Regions from separate parts of the Homo sapiens genome. Here region 2 is linked to region 1. Evidence: fine-mapped expression QTL. A gene starts in region 1. The other region holds a variant in brackets. All regions are shown on one strand. Distances are between the middles of the regions. Region 1 holds the start of SLC26A3 (solute carrier family 26 member 3). Region 2 overlaps SLC26A3 (solute carrier family 26 member 3).

Region 1 (9,761 bases):
AGTTCCACCCATTTCCAACCTGCAGACTGGCCTCCAGTTACGAGAACCTCCACTCTGCCTGCCCCGCTCTGCTGAGAAGTGTCTTTTGGCCCTGACCTTTCCACTCAGTGTTTATCTATTCTGTGTTTTAGTCTTTCAGAGGTCTGCCCTTTTTGCTGGGAAACAACTAATTTGAACCAAGATGCTGATGAGCGGTGCTAGGATTTGTCTTTAATTAGCGGTCATTTGAAACCAGCAGACAAGCAAGGGTGCAGAACACTTCCCAGCCCCTCCGCAGTCACATTAGATGCCTCCACTCTTGGACAAGGCAGCTCCTAGCAGCATCACCCCTTCATAGCTGTTCAAGCTGAGGAAGGCCTTCGATAGAGACATCACTGAAAATGCCACACTGTGCCTGAAATCTGCTGAAAACACAACTCACCTCATGGATCTCAAAATATCTCTGAGCCAGTCAGTGCAAAACCAGAGGTAAGCCAGCCCTATTTCATGAATTAGTCCTTGGACAATGGGAAATACAGCAGCGTCCTGATAACTATACTTGGGGGAGTGGGTGAGAGATGGGGGAACAAGCAGAATAATTGCTCCAGTGAGCACCTTCAGAGGGATCTCCATCGGCAGCCAGAGGAATCAGAAATCAAGCTCACAAAAAGCTCCACATTCTGGTTAGCGTGAGGCTGGATAGAAGCAGGGAGATGATGGCATCAGAATGGGAGAGGGCTGGAGTGGTGAATGGAGGGGAGGGGTCTCAGCACTGAGGTTGATTAAGAGAGCTCAGAAGGGGTCAAAGGCTGAGGTGGGCAATAATTGTTACTACTATTTTTCATCAATTCTATTACTACATTGCCGAAGATGCTGAAGAAGGAAGTCAAACCTAAATTAATCGGGAGGTACAACAGAAAAGAGTGAGACTTTGGCAACTAAGCACACCAGGTTTCAAATCCTTGCCTTGCCATATCTTAACTATGTTTGCTATAAGCCAGTGATTCAAGCCATCAATTTTCTTTTCTTTTCTTTTCTTTTTTTGAGACAGAGTCTTGCTCTGTCGCCCAGGGTGGAGGCTGGAGTGCAGTGGCGCGATTTCATTTCACTGCAAACTCCACCTTCTGGGTTCAAGTGATTCTCTTGCTTCAGCCTCCCGAGTAGCTGGGACTACAGGCACCCGTTACCATGCCCAGCTAAGTTTTTATATTTTTAGTAGAGATGGAGTTTCGCCATGTTGGCCAGGCTGGTCTCGAACTCCTGGCCTCAAGTGGTCTGCCTGCCTTGGCCTCCCAAAATGCTGGGATTACAGGCGTGAGCACCCGGCCCAAGGCTTCAATTTCCTTAAAGCAAAAGGAGGAGACCATTATTTTCCTTCTAGGGCTGTTCTTAAAACTGAAAGCAGGGTATACAAAGGGAGACTTCTTAGCCTTAAGTTCATAGGTAGCAGTCTCAGAAGTGAGTTAAATATTGACTGTTGGTGGAATTTACAACTGGTCCACAAAAGTCAGCTGGAACCTGTTGGAAAATGTTAGTGCTGCCAACTTTTCTATGACTTTATGTTTACTCTGAGCTTATCTTTAGAAGTAGCAGTTTTCCATTTTTATCCCAGTTTGTTTTAACATAGTTTTAAAATAATCTAGCTATCCGAGCTTCCTAGAATGACATACAAGGTCCTTCATGTTTTGGCTCTGGTCTATCTCACAAGCTTCTTCACTCCTCCTTCACAATTGCAGCAGGTTCCTAACACGCTATGATATTTAACAGTTCCGTATCTCTGTACACATGATTTCCTTTGTGTTCTTCTTCTCCAATACCTGGTAGATTCCAATTCATTCTTAAAAATACTCAGCACAGCTGGGTGCAGTGGCTCATGCCTGTAATTTTGGCACGTTGGGAGACTGAAGTGGGGAGATTGCTTGAGGCCAGGAGTTCAAGACCAGCCTGGCCAATATAAAGAAACCCTGTCTCTAAAACAAACAAACAAACAAAACACAACTCAGCTGACCATTGATTCATTTCTTCATTCCTTCAACAAACATGTATCAGCCTATTATTTGTCAGGAACTCAGTTCCTAACACAGTTGTAGAAGATAAGAAAATGATGTAAAGCCTTCATGGAATCCCTAGATAGAGTTGATCATTTCCTTCTTGTAAGTACCTTGTATATATGTCTATTCCATGTCATACATTATTTGTTTATGTTTCTGTTCCCTTTAAGACTGAGTTTCCCAAGGGCAAGGCCCAAATCTTAACCATTTTTCCCTCTTTTGTTAGGTCCTATGACATAGTAAGTATACAAGAAAGTTTGTTGAAATAAACTGAACTATGAGCAAAAGATATATAAATGACGTAGACCTAAACTCCAAAGTTTACATACACAGGAGAAGTGCCCAAAATAATTGGTGCAGATAATAAATTGGAAGAAGGGATGTAAATGTGGGTTGGAGTTAGGAAGGTTTTGTGAAGGAACTGTGAGTCTTGTGTTAGACTTTAAAGAACAGATAGGTTTGGCAGGGGTGATGACAAAGCAGTGGGCAATAAGCAAATCATGTGAAAGGTTATTGAGAGTTCCAAACACTGAAACAGAAGGCTTTGTTGGCCCATAGGCTAAACCATTAGAGAAATGTTGGGATGCACCATAGCAAGGGATTTCACACCCAGTAGGCTCACAGCAGGCAAAAGAGAATCCCTGGCCATTTCTGTAAGGCTTTGAGATTTTCTGAGCACTTTCACTTTTCTTCCTTGAGTATTACTGTGGATGGAGGCAGACAAGATAGGCTGTATTGTCGCTAATTTACAGATGAAGAAATGGAGATGAGAGAAGATAAATGACTTTCTCAACTTCCCAGAGCCAGGATGAGAAGCCACATCTAGTGAATAACTGACTCTCTCCACTACGTCTTCTTCTCTGCTACATATTCAATGTCAGGGGTCTCAGCCCCTACCCCCAAGAGAGACAAGGTAAAAGAACAAGGTGAGGCACCATCAGGGTCCTTGCTTTTGAGCATGAAAGCCTCACACTCCTACACTCAATATCCACAACACAAAACATGAGCCTGGTGGCCTGGGGACAAATCTCCTTGAGGTGACTTGCTTTATTCTTCCCCTTGCTTCTCAACAAAGTGACACAGAGGCTAGAGGAGCCTCTTCTCTTCTCTTTGGAGAATCAAAGACCTTTATTGTAGAGAAGCACCAGACTGTGTTATTACATATTTATTCTTGTAATTGAAAAATATTCATTCTCATTTTCTGAACGATTTTGTTTCTTAGTCGAATATGAGCTGTTTAGGAGGTATTAAACATTTGTTCATTTCTTTATATACTTACTTATTCCCTTATCCAGAGGGAGAAGGCAAAGTATGTATTGTGTTACCCCATTTTTCTTGTTTCTGAAATCAAATTAGTTGCTTCCTAAATTTTCATTAGGAATAATCCTTGGCCGGATGGGGTGGCACATGCCTGTAATCCTAGCACTTTGGGAGACTGAGGTGGGAGGATCACCTGAGGTCAGGAGTTCGAGACCAGCCTGGCCAACATGGCGAAACCCCGTCTCTACTGAAAATACAAAAAAAAAAAAAAAAAAATGCCAGGCACAGTGGAGCGTGCCTGTAGTATCAGCTACTTGGGGGGCTGAGGCAGGATAATCACTTGAACCTGGGAGGCAGAGGTTGCAGTGAGCAGAGATTGTGCCACTGCACTCCAGCCTGGGCGACAGAGTGAGAATCCGTCTCAGAAAAAAAAAAAAAAAAAGGAATGATCTTTATGCAGTCAAATTTCATGACACAGTTTTTCCAAATGACTAACTTACTTCAGAAAAGAGAATTATTTAGTCCAATAATTTGATAAATTGTTCCTCACTTGCATATATAAAGAAAGTTGTATAATCTTTTCCTGACATTTTAAAGAATAAAATAGATTTTATCTTGATAGAGTTAGTAATGTATGGGATAAGTACCCATACATTACTAATGTATTATATTATATTATACTACTTGTGGCATAGGGCATTCTGCTACTTTCCAGTGACCATTTTCTCCCCATCTCTCTTCTCTTTCCAGTCTCTATCCTTCTTACTCTCATTGCCTTTTCTTCTCTCCGTGTTTCCCTTAGTCTTGGACTTTCTAGGATGTCTAGCAGATAAATCTCTCACTTCTAGACCATATGTCCCCTACCCCCTCCCTTTTTTTTTAAGAGACAAGGTCTTGCCATGTTGCCTAGGCTGACCTCAAACTCTTGGGCTAAGCTATCCTCCTGCTTTAGCCTCTTGAGTAGCTAGGACTATAGATACATATCCCTATGCCTGGCTGGGACCAGATGGCCTTTCTGAATCCTTTCTAGTAGGTGATTCTCTCTCCTGGAGAAACTCTTTCCTTAAAGCTTGCTTTTTTTTTTTTTTTTTTTGCCAACCCTCAGAGCAGACAATCTATCTATAAAGTCAGATTTGAGTGGAGAATTAAAGGAATTATCTGAATAATTAAAACAAGAACACTAATATCTTTGAAAAGGCTATTTAAGACTTAATGATGCCTACAACCATTTACTTGTTAAAGTCTACTTAAATATTTATTCTACATTGCTAGCGCTCCAGACATACATGCATATCTTATTAGTGGATTCATTCAAAATATTCACACACATGGAATAAACTCAAGAACATAATAACTCCTAAATAGGCTTTGATCAGAAAAAATACCATTTTCAAGGAACAGAAAACCAGTTTGAATATAACAATCATAAATTTGGTTCCTACCTGACACATACTCTGTGAGGAGCTTCTGCAACAGTGGTACATTTTCAAGATAAAGTTCTAAGTTCTAGTTCTAAGAGGCAGTGTCCATCCACTCAGGTCTACAGGCTCTGTGTGCATCCATATGCATAGGGATGTCTATATATAGGCTATGTAAGACAGTGGACAAATTACCTTTCTGTCAGCTTTAATAATTAACTCTCATTAACTTTTACAACAATGAAAAGACTGCAATGTGGTCTTGACCTTTGAGACTTTGATCAGCAGAAGTGATGATGAAGATTGCTTCCTCAAGTTCCTTGTGAGATTAAACCACCAGTGGGTGGTTTAATGCACTTGTGTGTACGTAATTTCATTGGTTTGCAGAGATTGCACAGCAGATGCTCACGTGTACTTAAAAAAAAAAAGAATCTTCTCAAGGGTTATCTCCTTGACATTTCACCAACCTGTTTAGATGAGAGTTTAGTGGTGGTGTTTTTTGGCTGGATGACTCCATGGAATCTGTCATGGGCTGCAGAAGTGTGGTGTATAGGTTAACTCCTGGTATGATAAAGGCCCTCATTAGGAACACTCACCCAACTCCCAGCCACAGGCCATATCTGCATTCCAATTTCTGCCCCCACCACAGCTCTTCCTAAGAGCAATAAACCCTATGTTGCTAAACACAATGAATACTTTCAACTCTCATCTTACTTAAAAGCATTTGGCATTGCTGACTACACTTTCATGAACTCCTCTTTTTATTTTAAAAATTATTTAACTAATTAGTTAATTTTAGAGATGGGGTATTGCTGTGTTGCCCGGGCTGGTCTCAAACTCCTGGCCTGAAGTGATCCTCCTGCTTTAACCTCCTGAGTAGCTGGGATTAGAGGCCTCAGCCATCATGCCGGGCTAAAATCTTCTCTTCTTGAAATGCTAAAAAAAAATTTTTAACACACTTGTTTTTCACCTCATCCTTTTTGCCAATTTCTCCTCTAACTCTTTCTTTGGCATTTCCTAAGATTCTGTTCTGAATTTCCTTCTCCTCTCTTGCTACCCTCTTACCCTAAATAAGAGTCCTATGGCTCCCAGCAACATTCAGATTTCTAACCCCAGCTCTCTAGGTCCACATATTTAACTGCCTATTCCACATCTTTGCTTGGATGCCTCATAGGCATCTCAAACACGACACATATCGAGATTAAGACCTCTTGATCTTTCCTCCCAAATCTGCTCCATCTCTAGTCTTCCCCATTTCAGTAAAGAATATTCCCCTTTACTCATGTCAGAGACCTGGGAACCATCTCTGACACTTCTTCTTGCAGACCTTCTCCCCACCCGCAGCCAATCCATCCTTAAACCCTATTGAGCATGCCTCCAAAATACATCCCAAAGCCATCACTTTTCTTCATCTTCACTCTTACCTTTGCTGCACTTCTTGCTTCCTCTCGCAGCCCTCCCCATCTCTTTACCACTCATTAATCAGAATGATCTTTTCACACTAGTCCTCTTTGTGGGGCTGATGATTACACAGAGGGAAAACAGGCCTCCAAAGTCTTTGCATGATCTCCCCCTGCACAACTCTCCAACCTCATCTGACTCTGCTCTTACTTTTGTTTTCTCCACTCCCACCATGGTGGCCTCCTGTAGTCCCAAATTTGCCCACTCTTTGCAGACATCATTTTCTCTGCTTAAATGCACTTCTCTCTCTCTCTCGGTTTGGCTGTTACTTAGCTTCAACATCACTTTCTCAAGGAGAACCACTTTGACTTCCTAATCTCAATTAGCCCCTCTTGTGGCATTCTCTCAGAGTATTTTTTTAAGTCCCTTGGTTAATTTGCATGTACTTTTTAAAACATAGCATCATAATTTAAAAATACACAATTATTTACTTGGCTAATGTTTGGCTTTCTCATTAGAATGAAAGCCCCACACAGGCAGGGACTTTGGCGAATTCACTGCTGTATGCCCAGTACCTAGAATGAATCTACCACAGAACAATGACTCAATAAATAGTGGTTCAATGACAGTTCAATCAATGAATTATGTTTGCTATAAGACAATTCCAAAAGAATGTGGACAGGTCATTAGCGTTTGTTAGAAATTAATCTAACCTGTGTTTTTAAATCTGGCTCACACCTGTGCTAACTGCGTAACTGAATGAGCTGTGGTGCCACTTATCATGCTTTTATCAACATTAGCTAACTTTAATTAGTGTTTAGTATGGGCTGTAACTTTGCAATGTGTTTTATTGGGTTTATCCCATTTAATCCTCATAACAACCATAGATAGCTTAGTATTTTTATTCCTATTTTACAAATGAATAGATTGAGTTTTCACTTGTGGTGAAATCTCAATTTTTAATTTTTATTGGCTTTTATTGAAGCCAGCTAGAATCCAGAAAGCCTAACTTTGTCATGTCTTTACTGTATAATACTGCTTTTTATAATTTTAACAGATGTACAGAATATTTATTCAGAACCACTATACACTGATTAAATTTTGTATTTAGATGTGGTTGATGGAAGAACTGGAAAATATTGCACTTAAAGGTAGAGGCTCAGAATTATTGATCAGCATAAAAATGATTTATTTTAGAACAAATAAGAGAGTATTGCAAGATTGATGGATACAAGCTGAACAAAGGCAAATTATTACACGATATATATTACATAGTGTATAGCCTTCCTATATACTAATAATAACCATGTAGTAAATGTAATAAAAAGAAAGATATCATTGGTAATAGCAACAAAAGCTACAAAGATTAGTAGAAATAAATCCTTTTTGTTTTTTATTTTTAAGAGACAAGGTCTGGTTCTGTCACTAAGGCTGGAGTATAGTGGCTCAATCATAGCTTTCCGAAACCTTGAACTCCTGGGCTCAAGTGATCCTCCTGCCTCAGCCTCCCAAGTAGCTTAGACTACAGGCACATGCCACCACACCTGGCTAATTTAATTTATTTATTTGTTTTGAGATGGAGTCTCACTCTGTTGCCCAGGCTGGGGTGCAGTGGCTCGATCTCAGCCCACTGCAACCTCTGCCTCCTGGGTTCAAGCGATTCTCCTGCCTCAGCCTCCTGAGTAGCTGGGATTACAGGCACGCACCACCACGCCTGGCTAATTTTTGTATTTTTAGTAGAAATGGGGGTTTCACCATGTTGGTCAGGCTGGTCTTGAACTCTTGATCTCGTGATCTGCCCGCCTCAGCCTCCCAAAGTGCTGGGATTACAGGAGTAAATTTTTTAATTTTAATTTTATTTTGTAGAGATGGGTTTTTTCTATGTTGTCTAGGCTGGTCTCCAACTCCTGGCCTCAAGCTATCCTGCTACCTCGACCTCCCAAAGTGCTGGGATTACAGGCGCAAGCCACTGTGCCTAGCTGGAGTAAATCTTATCTAAAGATATATAATGATGAACTTTATAGAGATAATTAGAAAACATTATTAAAGGACAAAAACAAAACCTAAGAAAAATATAGCCGGGTGCGGTGGCTCACGCCTGTAATCCCAGCATGTTGGCAGGCCGAGGTGGGCAGACCACGAGATCAGGAGATCGAGACCATCCTGGCTAACACGGTGAAACCCAGTCTCTACTAAAAAATACAAAAAATTAGCCGGGCGTGGTGGTGGCAGGCGCCTGTAGTCCCAGCTAAGCAGGAGGCTGAGGCAGGAGAATGGCGTGAACCCGGGAGGCGGAGCTTGCAGTGAGCCGAGATCGCACCTCTCCACTCCAGCCTGGGCGACAGAGCGAGACTCCGTCTCAAAAACAAAAAAAAAAAAAGAAAAAGAAAAAAAGAAAAATATGAAGCCATAAATCTTCATGAGTGTGAAAGTTCAATATCATATAGATGTTTTCTTCAAATTAATCTATTACATAAATGCTATTACAATGAAAAAGCTTTTCTTTTTTTTTTTTCATAGAACTGGACAAACTTGGCCTAAAACTTGTATGGAAGAACAAAGGGCCAAGAAAAGTCAAGACGTCAAGACAATTTTTGAAATTGATGCATAATAATTGTATATATTTATGGGATATATGTGATATTTTGATATATGCATACAATGTGTAATGATCAAATCAGGGTAATAATGATATCTATCACCTCAAACATTTATCATTTCTCTGTTTTGGGAACATTCCAAATTTTCTCTTCTAGCTATTTTGAACTATACAATAATTTATTGTTAACTACAGCCACCCTACTGTGTTATGAAACACTAGAACTTATCCCTTCCATCTAACTGCACGTTTGTATCCATTAATCAACAGCTCTCCATCCCCACTCCCTGCTACTTTTCCCAGCCTGTGGGTAGCCATCTTTCTACTTTCTCTCTCTATGAGATCCACTTTTTTGGCTCCCACGTATTAGTGAGAACATGCAACATTTGTTGACAACTTTGAAGAAGAAAAAATGGGGAAACATTTTGCAGATATAAAGACTTATTATCAAGCTATAGTAATTATGGCAGTTATATGTTTGTGCTGTGGGAAATAAATATACCAATGGAACAGGACAGAAAGCCTAGAAACATGTATTGAAACTTGATATATAATAGAGGTTACGTGGCATTAGAGAAAAGATGGACTATTCAATAAATGGTGCTGAGACAACTGGCTATCCATGTAGAACAAATAAAATTTAGATCTCTATTTCACAGCAATCACACACACATTTTTTCAATTGACCAAAGGCCTAAATAGAAAAGGTAAAATTTTAAACTTTTAGAAGAAAAAGTATGCTGTTATAACCTTGGAATAAAAGTATTTCTTCAACAAGTCACATAAATGTGCATATCATAAAGGAAACGACTGACAAATCCATCTTTATTAAAATTAAAACATGGAAGACACCACAACAAAAGTGAAGACAAGCTCTAGACTGAACAAGGTATTTGCCCAGTTAAGTCTTAGAAAAGATTAATATCCAGAAGATATCAAGAACTCCTACAAATCAATAAACAAAAGGCAAAATTCACAGAAAACCTGAAGTGCCAATTAACATATGAAAATATGTTCAAGTTCACTAGTAATCAGGGAAAAGTAAGTACAACC
Region 2 (9,761 bases), 20 kb before region 1:
TGAGGTGGGAGGATCACTTGAGGCCAGGAGTTCAAGACTAGCCTGGGCAACATAGTGAGAATCTGCTTCTACAAAAAATAAAAAAAAATAGCTGAGGATGGTGGTGTGCAGCTGTAGTCATAGCTACTCAGGAGGCTGGGGCAGAGGGATTGCCTGAGCCCAGGAGTTTGAGGTTATAGTGAGCTAGGATGGCACCATTGCACTCCAGCCTGGGTGACAGAGGGAGATCCTATCTCTTAAAAAAAAATCAGCAAATTAACTGGTAGAGCTTATACTAATGTTTTACTCTTGGTCTGTTGATTTAATTAATGGTTGCTATCTTTATAAGAATTTTAGCATGCCAAAAGGGTGTTAAAACGCCCCACAAAAGTAAACCAAGTGTAGTTTACTAGTTATGATCTTTAAATACCTAAGGGTATGTTAACAGGCATTTTTACACCACAGACTTTGACCCTGTTAAAATAGCAAAGCATGTGAGAGCAAGGGGGAGCCTTTCCAAATGAGAGTATTTCCAAAAGCAATGTTCAGAAATTAAGTTCTTCACAGATTCGTGGAAACAAAAACATTATGTAATGAAGAACAGAAGCCATGCGTACCCTAAATTCAGAGAGTTTCTGTGGTACTTGGGATTACTGCAAGAACTTTTAGAATAGGCCTAAGGAAGTTCTAGACTAGTGTTTCATGGAGCCCATTCTTTTAAATTAAAAGTAGCCATTTAAAAAAATTAAAGTCCCAGAAAATGACCATTAGAATATGCAATTTAAAAATAGCAAATAAAACAAACTAAGGTTTTTTTGAACAGATATATAGAAACAAAATTTCACTTAGTTTACAATATAAACATGCATTTCACATTAGCATTAAAATGCTATTGTGATTTATCTCTCTTTCAAATACTATTGCCTCTACTTACACAATCATATTTGTCCTTTCGCCACAATCTGCCTATTTCAGCAAACTGCATCAGCATTCCCTTTAAGTTTCCCAATGCTAAAGCTGCCAGGACGGACTGTGAAAAACACAAACATCAGATGTACTTTAAGTTAATGAAATAAACCACAGGGAAGCAAAGGTGAAGGCTATAGATAAGTGTGTGCTTTAAAGGGCCTCAAAGCAAATCAAAGCATTACACCCTTTTCCGGTGTGCGATGCCACGCAAGACACACCAGAACTGGGACTCTGACCTGTTCCTATGAATGACTTTGTCCCCACAACAGTGACAAGGCCTAGGCTGCTCTTGTGATTATGAGATAGATGATCTGATGGCGTTTAGTAGCCTGCACCTTGGGACAGAGAAAGGCAGACCTTCAGACCTATGACAGACTAACATTTGGAATAAATTCCTCCCAAGCAGAGACAGTCTAATGTGTGTTTGTTTATTGGAGTCAAGGAGATGGGGGTTGCTCTTTGTTAAAAAAAAAAATAGCTTGGGAAGCTTGAGGTCCTGGAATGAGATGACTTGAGGCGGGCTTTCTGGGACAGCATGAAACATATCTATCTAGTTCCTGCTATATCCCCAGAACCTACTATGTTAAATGCATACAGGAGGGGCTTTAAAATTAGTCAGTGAATGAGTGGCTGAGCCAATGAATGAATATTTCCCAGGCCAGTACTAATCCCTACAGCCAAGCTTCAGACTTCCAATTCTTCCACAGCCAGAATGTGATCTTTTATCTTGCAGGAATTGTGATAGTTAAGGTGAAAAATGCTGAATAGCTAAGTATATTCTCTTCATTCTTTGGATTTTATCGTAATTGTAGGAACATGCCCCTCACCGTCCTGTTCCCCCTGCCAATTTATTTTATTCTGAATGGAGTATGGAATTTGTATACTGCTATACCATGAAAACACAGTGTACAAAGAAAAGCCAAATACAGTTTTTATTTTTATATCTTGAGGACAGTTGAACTGATCTGCCTATTTCTAATTTTCACAGGTAATCCTTATAATATAATATCTAAGCAATTAATTTTACTAACTGTGAGAATAGAGGTCACAGTTTAGAAGAAATATGGTCTTAAGTGACTTTTAAAAAATTTGGCACACAAGTGAATGCCAGTTAAAAAATGGTGAAAATTGAATAAAGTCTGTAATCTACTTAACATACTATACTAATGTATAGTACTGATATTGTACTACAGCTGTGTAAGATGTCACCATTGTGGTAGCTAGGCAAAGAAGTCAGAGGACTGTACAACGGGCCTCTCCATTTTGCAGGACTTTTAATTCTCTAAGTATAAAATATGTCAAGAGACACCTGTGCGAAGAGACTTTTTTTTTCCATTGGGCATTATTTCCCACCTAGTCAGTATTCTACGGAAAAACAATTTGAAGTAATTTACGATGACATACATATACAACAGATTACTTTTAAAGTAAAGATTACAGAGCATTAAGAAATCATAGAAAGGAAAGGGGGATAATTTCCGCAGTAATCTGGTATCCATACTGCATTTGATATAAAGGATTAAATGAAGAGAAAACGCTTAGAGCTCTGCTGACATGCAGTGAGCACTCAATAAATACCTATTATGAGCTTTTATTATGGGTTATTTTGCCTTCATATGATAAAAAGAAGCAAATAGTTATTTGGGTGTTTGAAACAAAGACATTCCTGACCACAATGGCCTAAAAAGAACATATCACAGGACCCTTTATAAAAGGGGCTTTGATTAAATCTTGGACAAGATTTGGTAATTATTTCTTTAGTGTCTCCAAATTGATGTGGGCTAGGTAGAACTCAAGTTTACACCCGGGGAGAAGCATGAGAGGGTGGAGTTCTCTCTGTAGGGGTGAGTGTGTGTGCGTTTATTTTTATTGAGATAACATTCTTCTATTTCTTTAGTGGTGACTTTTTCATTCCTTTTATGCCACTTATTTTGAAATCAGAAGTATAGCCTATGGAGAATGCATATTTTTGGCAAATTGTTCTCTGCCCTGCTTGAAGATGGATTTGGCCATTGAGCTTTTTGAGATGACCACACTGGGAGTCCAGCAACCTGGGACCACAGTCACCGTTCGGCTACCAACCAACAAGGAAAAAAGGCCTAGGTAACAGCCAATAGACATTTGTGGGCTGTATCATATCTCTATGTCTTTTATAGCCAGGAGTGTAATACAATGTAGAATAATAATATTATTAACAATAATGACTATCATTTATCAAGTATTTATCATATGCCAAACCCTCAGCTAAGTAGTTCACATACATGATCTTATTTATTTTTATAGTCACTCTGTGTAGTGGGTATTATTTCCCTTTCTATTTTACAAATGTGGCGCTTGAGGTTCAGCAAGGTTAAGTAATTTGCCCAAAATCACACAGATAATAAGTAGCAGAGCCAGGATTAGAAGGAGGTCAACAGGGCTCCATGTACCACCTCAAAATTATATTAAAACCACAAGGAACAATGTATTTACTGTCATCTTGTTTCCTAGAGAGCCTTTGCTTTCCAGGGTCTGATGGTATGTTTTATATCTGAGTGCTGCAGCAGTTTACAAAGTATTAAACTAAACCCTCAAGCTTATAGGCAGAGGAGCATGAGAGTAGGGCTGGGAGGTCTGTGCTGGCTGTTCACTCCCATCCCACAATCCAACAGTGTTG[G/C]TCTTGGAGTTAAACCAAAGTTCTAGAAGCTTCAGGGTGTGTTCCTAAGAACGAGTTGTGTGGCTGGTAGGGCCATTCTCTGAATTAGATAGAGGGCCTGATTACCTTAACCTTTAAGAAAACCTCTACTCAGTCCATGCGTGTTGAAAGTGTGGTGCCAGGGTGCCCTCCTATTTCAACATTAATTCTATTTGGGGCTATGCACATGCAAAGTGTAGAGGAGATAAGGCAGGTTGGGCACCTGTGTTCCTAACATTCAGAACATGTTGCCAGGGAAAAAGAAATATTTTTGGCTCATACAGAGTATTGGCTAAGAAGAGTACTTGAGAGTTTGTCATTACCTCATTTCCCCTAGTTTAGTTTGTGCTTTCAGAATTTAAGAACCGGGGTCCTTGATTTACCACTAAAAGTAGAGATGCTATCCAAAGACAGTGTTACCTTTTGTAGAGGCGCCAGGAGAAATCCAATGGCTAGAACGACAATCAGCACGATGATGGCACCAATAAGCCCAGCAATCTGTGAGGATAAAAAAATTATCATCACCAACTCAACTTTTCCCCTGGCTTGAATTTCCTAGTTACTAACGCTAGGACAGTGCTTGCAGCAAAGATCTTGACATACCTGTGTTTTGCCTCCTGTGCTCTCCTGAACTGCTGATCTGGAGAGGGCAGTACTCCCAGCAAATCCTCTGAATACTCCACAGACTATGTTACCCAGTCCCAAGGCTATTAACTCCTGACAGGAAGACAAGAATGAACCTTTTTCAGAAGTGGCACCATTGATATTATGTGTGCAAAATATTATTTAAAGTTGCCCAGTGAGACCCAGTGTAGTTTGTTTACTTACCTGATTGCCATCAAGTGGATAATCGTATTTGAGGGAATAGACGCTGGCAACTGAAAAGGCCACTGCAAATGCAACCATTGCGATGCCGAAGCAATCTCCTACGGTGTTTTGGAAAGTCTCCACGTCAGGTGTAATAGGGGGCTGAAATCTAAAATTGAAATTAAGCAAGTCTGAATGTCACCAACCAATTTATAAACTGATATAACCATTGGGCAAATCAATGAATGAATGCAATCTAGGCTGAGTTGTGTCTCACTTTGGAGTATGATTAACGAGAATTTAGCTCCACTAACAATTTTGCAATCTGCTTTCTTAATGCTGAAAAGCAACACTGCCTGAATTTGGTAAAAGACTGCAAATTCAATCCAAGGATAGTGGTAAATCAGATATGATTTTGCCAGTAAAACCACACTATAATGTGCGTGTGTATTCTTATAAGCTTCCTGCAAAATGTCTTCTATTCCACTTGTATTGTTACACTGGGCTGCAAAGCATCACTCAAAATGCTCCCAATAGTTATCCATACATGAAGTCCTTTGAGCAAACACAATTGTGAGACAAGGAAAGCAAAAAAGTCTTCTTTCCATTGATAATAATAACCTTTCATGGAAAACTCCTGGCAAAGAGATGGGCCTTGGACTCTGCCCTGCACTTCACAGAAATGCTAGAGACAACCATGACCCTAATGGAGAGTGGATTTCTCTTTAAGGTGATATATGTCAGAGAAACCTTCAACTCACAGGGCGTACTTCTGTGCTTAAGCCTCATGAATGTAGACCAGTTCAATTATATTTACTAATTGTATCATAAAAGGTGCATGTATCTTAAACTCAACATCAATTTACTAAAATGTTCCACTCCTATAAGCATATATTTCTGACATCAGACTTATTGGAAGTGGGTTAATTAGGTCCAATCAACTCTTTCTGAATTGCTGTTCCACATTTTGTGAATATCTATGGTAATACATTTTTATCTCTAATTTTGAAGAAGTACTATTATACCATAATTTTGAAGAAGTACTATTATATCTGATGCCATTATAAATCCAAAAGTTAGCTTGGAATGTTTTTGTTTTTTAATAACCAGGATCTTATTATTCTTTTGTTCTGGTCTCTGAACACCATAGACAGAATGATGTGATGAAGATTTACAGTCTAAAGACTTGGGTTCATTTCCTGGCTCTGCCACTTGCCCTTCCCAAGTCACAATTTCCTCATTTGTAGAGTGAGGATAATAAAACTTGTTCTCTGTTTTTTTGAGATGGGGTCTCCTCTTTCCCAGGCTGGAGTGCACAGCTCACTGCAACCTCCACTGTCCAGGCTCAAGAGATCTCCCCACCTCAGCCTCCCAAGTAGCTGGGACTACAGGTGTGTGCCACCACGCCCAGCTAATTTTAGTATTTTTAGTAGAGACAGGGTTTTGCCATGTTGGCCAGGATGGTCTCGAACTCCTGACCACAAGTGATTCACCCGCCTCGACCTCCCAACGTGCTGAGATTACAGACGTGAGCCATGGCGCCCGTCCTTGTTCTCTTTTCTTCACAGTTTAGTGGGAGGGTCAAATAATAAATGCAAATACTATTTACACACTGTAAAACACAAAGTGCCTGTTAGCTATTATTATAGGATCCCTCTGGAATCTGAATATACTCCTTGTGTTTCCTTTACTGTTTCAATGAGCACTTTTCTTCAGCCAAATTATTTGTATTTAGTGTATGAGACTTTGCAAAATAACTACTAAGGTGGCATAGTCATGAACAGTAGGTTAGCAATAATTAATAATCACTACCTTCCAGTTATAGTCTATTTGCAATCAACAAAAACTTAAAATACCTACTCAATCATCACCCAGAAAAAAAAATGGAGCATAAAAAGCTCAAGTGCTTGCTACCTAATTTAGGTGTTAAACTAGTTAACAATAGTAGTGTAATTTGAACATTTATTGTAAGTCAGGCACTTAAGCATGTTACATGTATTAACTCACTCAACTCTTAAAAGAATCCTACTTGATAGCTATTATTTTTAGCCTCATATTTACAGCCAAGAACATTGAGGCACAGAGTTTTTGGTAATGTGCTCAAGCTCAAAAAGTGAGTCAGAATCAAATCTCAGGTACTCTGCCTCTAGAACACTGGAGCTTACCTACTAGGTTACACTGCCACTCTATTGAACGTAATGGTTACCCGTTGCCACACCCTACACACTGTGGAGAGAGGTACACTGACATTGAAAATACATTCACTAAATAAGACTGTTGTTGAGGTATTTAAGGTGTAACTCAGTGATCTTAAGTTTATCTTTTATTTTCCAAGCCCTTCTGACAAGATCCTGTTTGGTTTTGCAAGTATTCATTTTTTCTATTTGGTTTATGTCTCCCAAGACATTTAAGTAAAGTGAAATCACTTCAAAGTGGCAGAATAGAAGGAAACCCTAGAAACAGTCTTTCAGTTTCAGCCTAATTTCCACTTTAAAACTTTAAAAATTAAAAGTGATGCTTGAGATTCGTGAAATGTAACACACGAAGATCTGGTAATAAAAAAAATGTTTTTTCTTTAAAAAAATAAAAAGTACATATATTTGCCTTTAAAAGAATTTGGCTGTTTTAAAGTAAAAAAAATACATATAAATGCTGATTTCTCGAATTCTCAAATATTTCTTAAGCATAGAGAGGGAGAGAAGTCTTTTAAAAAAACAAAACAAAACAAAACAAAACAGGAAAACACCTTTTCCTTGGTAAGTTGGAAGAAACTGATTCTGTGGTTAGAAGAAACAACACAAAATGATCTTCCTTCTCAATCCACTGAATGTAATGAAATACATTTTAAAATTCTTGTACAAACTGGACTTCTCATCCTTTTGCAGTGGGAAAAGTTGCTCTGCCCTTGTTTTGAATCTGATCGGGAGAAAGGACAGAGTGTGCCTATCTGGACTGCTCACGTGGAGTGCCTGTGTTCCTTCAGTGTCTTCTTTGAACTTTCAGAACTTGGCTCCAGTAACTTCAAACAAAGCATTACATATTGTTTATAGTAATTTATGGACAAGGAAATCTGGTTTCACTTGATGTTTCTTTAAGAGGAGAAGCAGTTTACTTTGCCTATTTTTCTTTATGGTATTATTTATATATTTTTAAAAAAACAAGAGATGGGGGTCTTGCTGTGTTGCCCAGACTGGTCTTGAACTCCCGGGCTCAAGTGATCCTCTCACCTTGGCCTCTCAAATTGCTGGGATTTCAGGCATGAGCCACCGGGTCTGGCCTTACTTTGCTTATTTTTAGACTTTCACTACTTTGCTAACTTTTACTTTCCTGTGAGTTTCTACTGGTCTGTGTCCCTGCTTGTCTTGTTTGTGAGTTCTTCCACAAGGAGAAGCCTTCTGATATTAAGAACTGCATTCACTGTGGGGAGGCGAAAAAAAAAAAAAAAGAACTGCACACCCTGCCTTTCTTTGTAGCACCTTCCTAGAAGGAAAGCAGTGAGCCTTCCTTAGGGATGCAGGGTGCAGGGAGGATTCTGATGAGGGTTACCTGCAGGCTGAACTGCAGTTCGGATTGTACCTCTCCTGTCACTACTGCTAACTCTCTGCTTAGTGCATGGTGATGCCATCATCGAAGACACACTTACCCAGGATTCATGTCCCCAACCACAGCCACTTTAAACCTGTTTTTAAAGTCACAGCCGTAGGATACACCTGCTGCAATCACGGTCTGCAAAGTTGCAAATGGCCCAAGTTAGAAATGTGAGATGCAAGTAAGAGTCTTGCTTTGAAGAAAAATAAATTGCCAAAACCCACTTCTGTACCTGTTAAGTAAGAACTCCAGCCCAGGCTTTGTTACTTTTTAAGAAATTCGGAGGCAATTCTAACATGCCGCCAGGATTGAGAACCACAGCTAAATTCAAATGGCTCTAACACGACATTTTGTCAAGGGTCTTGCTCTCTGCACTATCCTTGTCTCACGTGGAAAAAATTAACTCAAAATCATAAGAGGAAGTTATTAAATTCTGAATGAAAATAAAACCATGCTAAACATTATGCCCGAAAACTGCAGAGATGGCCTCTGCCCCACTAAAACTTCCTGAGCTACAAATGGTGAAGGACTTACAACATATAAACAGTAGAGTAGCTATGACAGAGTCTGAAAATGATCAATTACCATAATGAATTCGATTGGAATGGGCACTGGAAGTTTGTCTTTGAAGCGCTGATTTATTTCTTTAACAATGGATACAACCAAAAGGACAATCAGAGCTGTCACCAGGTCTGCAATATTAGTCTTCTCTATTTGTGAGAATACAGAGTATAGTACCTACAATTATAAAAACAAAAACCACCAAAGCCCTATATTAATGCACAATTTGGATACAACGCATCTCCAAACAAATAAAAATAAACATGGAAGCAAAAAGACTGATAGAGACTGATAGTGATTTCCTGTATTGCCCCGGTTTAATTGTGAATGTGAAATTGTAGAGAGTAGCGATGGAGATATGAGAAGAGTAAGTTAGCATAGTGTAGGTGGCACACTAGTTTAAGAATGCTTCTGGCATTTTTGCTGGGAATCTCTTTGGCTAGTGTCAAATTTTGTTGGATACTTTTCACATTTTTACCACTGGTCTTCTGCCCTTATTAGGTCTCTTTGGTCGTCATTTTTTATTTCACAGCCATCACTACTCTGTCCAGGGAATAACTTCTGATCTTTGATAGTTTTGCTTAGTATGCTCAATTCCTGGCCCTCTTGGGGGGTTTACACCCCCTCATATTTCTTAGCTGACTCTCTATGTCACTTTTGGAAAATAGTTTTCTGGCTAACTGTGCACTATGCATGTGCACATACTTCTTGAAGCTAGTTGGGTTCCATATCCACTTACCCCAAAAAGCTCAAGCAGGCCAAAACTGGATCCCAAATTGCTTCTAGAACACTCCACTTTTGGAATACCTCTGGATGAAAGAGAGTGTTGGTTCCAATTTGGAGCAAGTTCTGTCTCAACTCCCAAAAACTTTTGGGAGTCGTTAAAAATCAAACACATCTACCATCGAGCTAATGTTAACAACAAAAATTAAGTAACACTTCTCCTATATTTGACTCAAGTATTTTCAAAAAAATAATCTATGTTATTAAAAGCTTTACCATTTTGTCCCAAGTTTTAAAACTAAGAACACTATCTGTTCTACTTTGCATCCTCTGGAGGAGGGGAGAACTGCTGCCCTATCTACATAGTGGTAAATGTTCTTTTGTTTTCTAAACAGGATGCAAAAAGACCCAAGAACTTCAATTCTAAAAGAATGAGACATGCTTTTCAAGAAACAGGAAA

The links. PIP is the estimated chance that this variant, and not a neighbour inherited with it, causes the effect.
Region 2: its variant is fine-mapped to the expression of SLC26A3 in testis (GTEx, PIP 0.93).

Annotation. Positions count from the first base shown.
Region 1 is chr7:107,798,379-107,808,139 of GRCh38, forward strand. SLC26A3 (solute carrier family 26 member 3) reads right to left here and starts at 4,845. Exons shown (of 21, transcript NM_000111.3): 1 at 4,733-4,845.
Region 2 is chr7:107,778,755-107,788,515 of GRCh38, forward strand. It overlaps SLC26A3 (solute carrier family 26 member 3), which reads right to left. Exons shown (of 21, transcript NM_000111.3): 7 at 8,603-8,755; 8 at 8,073-8,155; 9 at 4,451-4,598; 10 at 4,226-4,339; 11 at 4,043-4,120; 12 at 914-1,009. Among named protein-coding and RNA genes, the nearest start is that of SLC26A3, 20 kb to the right of the region's middle. RefSeq lists an enhancer at 1,048-1,192 and a cis regulatory region at 1,109-1,132. The variant G/C (reference allele first, on the strand shown) is at 3,605.